Regions from separate parts of the Homo sapiens genome. Here region 2 is linked to region 1. Evidence: fine-mapped expression QTL. A gene starts in region 1. The other region holds a variant in brackets. All regions are shown on one strand. Distances are from middle to middle.

Evidence for each region.
Region 2: its variant is fine-mapped to the expression of ZNF32 in whole blood (TOPMed, PIP above 0.99).

What each region holds. Positions count from the first base shown.
Region 1 is chr10:43,647,587-43,650,489 of GRCh38, reverse strand. It overlaps ZNF32 (zinc finger protein 32), which reads left to right and starts at 1,609. Exons shown (of 3, transcript NM_006973.3): 1 at 1,609-1,688. All of the region lies in intron 1 of ZNF32-AS3 (ZNF32 antisense RNA 3), which reads right to left. ZNF32-AS2 (ZNF32 antisense RNA 2) reads right to left here. Exons shown (of 3, transcript NR_047558.1): 3 at 2,471-2,903. RefSeq lists a silencer at 1,584-2,103.
Region 2 is chr10:43,593,654-43,596,556 of GRCh38, reverse strand. No RefSeq gene overlaps it. Among named protein-coding and RNA genes, the nearest start is that of ZNF485, 11 kb to the left of the region's middle. RefSeq lists an enhancer at 922-1,001. The variant C/A (reference allele first, on the strand shown) is at 1,207.

The DNA of each region.
Region 1 (2,903 bases):
GAGGCTGGGGTCACATCAACCCCAATCCTAACAGCTTTCTCCCCTGCTTTGGGCCCTTCAATGTGTCCACTTTCCTGAGACGCCTTAAGGGAATTTATGCAGATCTATAAAAGTGACGATGGTCCCCCCTCACAGCCACCTTTTCCCACCAATGCTTTGTCATGTACCTTCACGGCAGGATCTGAAACTTGTCCTAGTGTCCACAGCCGGTCTTGACCTTAACAGAACCTATGTACCCTTGTGTGAAGCAGAGGCCGCAGCCTTAGGACTCTGAGCCTTGGCCTTTGCTGTGTGCCGCCCTCCACCCCTTTCTCAGACTTGGGAGGAGTGAGGAGAGGAGCCACCTGGGGCAGTTCAGGAATGGGGAGCTTCAGGACAGTTTGCACCACACACTCTGGGACTTAGCTGTGCAACACCCCGACCCCCATGTGAGGAAGGTGGTGTTTGTTTGCTCCACCAGACTGTCAGCTCCTCCCTAGGAGCACGGAGTGTGTCTTGCTCACATTCGTATCCCCAGTGTCAGCACTTAAAATGGATTCAACGGATAAATGTTGAATGAAATTCAGAAATGATGTGCAATAGTAAAAGCTAACATTTAGGAATCAACTTATTACTTACAGACACCTTTGCATATTGAGTGAAATTAAGTTGTTTGATTTAACAAATCTGTGGCTTTGGGGTAGAGAACAAGAACATAGCAAGAGGAAGCATTCTTTATTAGTCCTTCACGAAAGAGGATGGACAGACACATCTACGGAGAGGGGCTCCAGAGGCAGGGACCCAGAGATACACCCGGCCAGGCAGAACAGCTCCAGGATGTGGCCCCGATCCTGGAAAAGTGCGTTTAAAAGAGGCTTAAGGCATATCAGACAGCCTGGCCAACATGGTAAAACCTTCATCTCTACTAAAAATACAAAAAAATTAGCCAGGCATGGTGGCACAGACCTGTAGTCCCAGCTACTTGGGAGGCTGGGGCAGGAGAATCACTTGAGCCCAGAAGGCGGAGGTTGCAGTGAGGCGACACCGTGCCACTGCACTCAAGCCTGGGAGACAGAGTGAAGGAAAAAAAAAAACAGGCATTATTAGAGAGGCTTTATCTCCTACGTGTTCAAAAGCAACCATGCTCCTCCCAGTATCTCAGGACGACTGGACTGCCTGTGTTCCTGTTGCTCTTCACAGAAGCTCCATGAAAGCGGGCTTCGCTTTTGTTCATGCAGCCAGAGGCTCAACACATGACCTCGAAGCCGCCAAGGCTTTATCAAACGGATTTCTCCCAAAAACTTCGTTTCCTTCCGCGACGCCCTGCAAGAACCCTGTATTCCTGAGTCCCTGGCTCAGCGTCTGCTACCCCGATGCTGTCAATCAGATCCTGCTAATCTGAGCGGCCGTGGCTCCGTCCCGGCTCCGCGTCCGCTGACAGGTCACCGCTGTGAGTCTCCGGATTACCAGTCCAAACGGGACGGCTTGAGGTCCCCGCGCCCTAGGGACCTGCGGGGCCCGAGCGCAGGGCGCGCCAGAGAACTACATTTCCCACAGAGCTCTTGGGAAGCCGGGGCCGCCGAGACCCACGGCCCGGCGGGCGGGCTCGCGGGGAGACTCCTGGGAGTTGTAGTCCATTCCGCCGGCGCCGGCGCTGGCGCTGCTGCGGGCTCGGCGCCGGCCTTTGTCTGCGGGCACGCGCCGCTGCGGTGAGTGAGGCCGCTGGCCGGGTCAGAGCGCCGGGGCAAGGCGGGGCTGCGCCATCAGACCGCTGTCCCGGGCCCTCCGTGTGGCCGCCTTATGCCAGCGGCCGCCAAGGAAATGAGCAGGCCTGGCCGGCCCGGGCCCCGAGGGAGGCCAGCCGCGAGCGGAGAGGTCGGCGGTCCGCAGAGCAGGGTCCCGTGGACCGGAGAGCGGGATGCCGAGGTTCAGGACGCAGGGCGGGCCCGGTGCCCGGGGCCCGGGGCCTGAGGCGGGAGGGCAGCGTCTGCGGAGAGGAGCAGGGCCCATGGCGTCGGGGCGTGGGAGGGGGAGGCCGCGGCAGGCTCACCCGGCCTCCGTGCGGGCTTCAGCGAGTGCGGGAAGCCGGTGCCGGCCTTCCGGGGTGGGAGGAGAGGCAGCCCCTGCGGGGGAGAGTAGGAAGCCAGGCAGCGTGTGGGAAACCACGCTACCCACAAGCTCCTAAACCTGAAACTGGCCCCAGGACATTTTCCAGACCGCCAAGTGTACCCCTCTTCTCATCCGCCCTCCAGAGGACGCCGGATTTTAGATCTTAAGTCTGGTGGTCTCGTCTGATACTCCTCTTGTTTGGTTCTTTCCTTCTCATTGTCCTACCTGATAGGACAGTGTTAGTAACCTGTTTAATAAGTGGGGAAGCAGAGTCAGGGCTGCTGGGTTACTCGCCCAAGATCATATCCTGGGGGAGCCACGGCAAGAAGCCAAGACTCACGGACTACTTCTAAGCTTTTTCCAAAGGATATAGTAGCCTTTCTAATAGGAAAATCAATGTTTTTAATTATAAAGCCACTTTTACAAAATCTTGGGGAAACTGCTTCCTCAGACCTGTGATCTAGGGAGAAAAATATGACAATTTCTCCCTTACTAATCACGGAGGTCCCTGATAGGCGGCGGAGTTGTAACTTGAAGACCTCACAGCAGGTGGAGAGGCAGAGCTGTGAATTCTACTCTAATTTCTGGAATCCCCGGCGACAGAGTCCAACCCCAGGCAGCAGGCGCCATGTACCCCAGGGACTTTTAATGTGTGTGCAGCTGTTGAGCAAGAATACCTTGAACTTCCAAATGATGTGCTGGCATGCTGGTAGGGAATTCCTTTGCAGCTTGTGTTCCAAGTTGGAAGTGAGTCCTCCAAATAAAAATTTAAATGATTCTCCTGGTCATCACAGCATGTAGCAGAATGTGCAGTT
Region 2 (2,903 bases), 54 kb after region 1:
TTTCGATCTCTCTGGTCCTCAGTTTACCACAACATTTTGGCAAGCCAGCCAGGAGTGGAGATGACAGGCTTACTATCTCCTTTGCCTGTGGGGCTGGAGCCCCGGGTCAAGGGAAAACTGTGACCCCAGGCGTGGCTGGGAGAACTTCAGCCCAGAGGGGAGATAGGCTCTCCTGTGACCCAGTGCCCCTACCCAGCAGTGCAACAGAACCTGAGAGGGGCTACAGGAGGATTACCAGGAGCAGCATGCTTCAGGAACCACGGTAAGGTATTGGGGCCCAAGGCAGGACCTGTTCCATAAGGACAGAAGGGGAGCCTGATCACCTCCTGGGGTGTAACTCATAATCCGACCCAGAGAGGTAGGGAGCAGTGAGAGTGGCTCACCAATTTAGATTAAACTCACACCCCAACCAACACAGGATGCGAGAGTGGCTCACTAAGTTGGTTAGGAAAAGGAAATTGGAGGTGGTGAGAGTGGCTCACTACCCTAAATAGGAACACAGGAACTGGGAGTGGGGAGGTGTGTGAAAGTGTGTGAAAGAAACAGTTTCAAAAGGAACCAATGCGGGGAGTGATGTGGGGAGTCATAAATCTCTTAGCGTGCACTGTGTGCTCCAAGCAAAGTGTGGGGCTGACCTGGACTAGTGGCAAGCTGCATGCAACTAATAGGAGCTGCCCCACAGCTCAGAGTTGTGGTGGGAATAAGAACCCCTCCAAAGCTAAGCGGCATCTGAAAACTCCCTCAATAGGAGACAGTCTGGTCAGCCTGAGGCAAAAGGAACAGTGAGTGTACTGCGCCACAAAGGGAGGAATGGAAGGAAAGTCATCAAAACCCACTCCATTGGAGTGCAAGTTACAGACCTTTAAGAAATATTTTGCAGGGGATTATGGAGTTAAGCTGACCCCCCAAAGGTTGAGAACTCTCTGTGAATTAGAATGGCCTCCTTTTGGTATTGGATGGCTGACCAAAGGAACTATAGACAGGGAAATAATTGGCCATGTATTTAAGGTGGTGACAGGGGTCGGAGGACAGCCTGGGCATCCAGATCAATTTCTTATATTGACTCATGGTTAAATATAGTACAAACAAGACTGGCCTGGATCCAGCCCTGTTTAGCAGCTTATCAGAAAACACTTGTGGCCTGAGCTGAGCCAAAAATGAAAGTAAGAGCAGCTTCGCTGGCAGACACAGAGTTAAAGGGAAAGT[C/A]CCAGAGGAAGCAAAAGAAGCCAGTCTTGCAGGAGCTGCCAGAAGGAGCAGAGATTCTTCCTCCATGTGTTCCACCCTTTGCTGAGGCCAACAGCCCCCCAAGAACGAAATTCAGGAGCTAGCACACCCCAGGTTTCACCCCAAAGGGAAGGATCGGAGCCTCGAGAGGCCAGGGAAGGAAGTCAAGATAGTCAAGCAGGCCGTCTCAGATCTGACCATGCTTAAGCTATGCAAGTGCCTCTCAGGGAGACGTGAGGACCCATTTATTGTGATGACCAAGGCCAAGTCCAGGGGGGGCAACGGACTTGCATCTATCAGCCCTTTTCAACCACTGATCTCTTAAACTGGAAACACCATACTCCCTCCTATATGGAGAATCCCCAAGCTCTTATAGATCTGATGCAGTCCATCCTTCTGACACACAATCTAACCTGGCCAAACTGCAGGCAGCTTCTTCTCACACTGTTTAACACTGAGGAACACAGGAGAGTAACCCAGGCAGCTCTCCACCAGCTTGAAGCCCATGCACCAGCAGACACAGTGAATGCTCAGGCATACACTCCGGGCCAGTTCCCAGACCAAGATCCCAGCTGGGACCTGGAAGATGTGACCCAGCTTCAGCATTTGCAGAGGTACTAAGAGGCACTTCTGCAAGGGCTAAGGGATGGTGGAAAAGAGGCAATCAATATAGGAAAGATCTCAGAGGTGCTTCAGGGAAGTGATGAGAGCCCTAGCCAGTTTTATGAAAGACTCTGTGGGGTATACCAGCTTTTCACCCCATTTGTCCCTGAGGCTGTTGAACATCAGCATATGGTAAATACATCATTTATAGGACAGGCCCAGGGTGACATAAAGTGAAAGCTTCAGAAACTGGGAGGCTTCTCAGGCATGAATGCCACCCAGCTTATAGAAGTGGCCACTAAGGTGTATGTTAACTGTGACCAGGAGGCAAAGAAGGAAGCAGATCAGAGGCTTAAGAAAAAGGCCAATTTGTTGGCAGCAGCCCTTATAGAAAGAGAGATTAGTAATGTGAGAGGACATGGACATGGACGTGGATGTGGAAGAGGTCTAGTTAGACAGGGATTCAAGAGCTGACCAAGGCTAGAGAAGGATCAATGTGCACAGTGTAAAAAGAAGGAACACTAGAAGGATGAATGTCCAAAAGGCAATGAGGGAAATGGCCAAGGCTGTGAGACAAAGAGGCCATTGGCCAGGGGCTGCTGCACCCTAGAGGAACCAGATACTGATCTAATCGGGCTGGCAGGGGCTGAAGGATATGAGGACTAGGACAGACCAGGATCATTCTCATTGGGCCTCCAGGAGCTTATGGTCACATTAGAAGTTGGAGGACAATTGATGGACTTTATGGTAGATACTGGGGCTGAACACTCTGTAGTAACTCAACCCTTAGTGCCATTATCCAAGAACTATAAAACTATTGCAGGGGCTACTGGAGTCTCAGAGAAGAGGCCATTCTGCCAGTCAAGGAGGAGTGTTATAGGAGGATGAAAAGTTCAGCATGAATTCCTATAGCTCCTAAACCGTCCAGTTCCCTTGTTAGGGAGAGACCTACCTCAAAAACTGCACGCACAGGTTACTTTTGGCCCACAGGAAGATATGACTTTAAATCTAAGTCACCCGAAGGCCATGGTGTTAATCTCTATCATCCCACAGGCTGAGGAGTGGAGACTTTATGG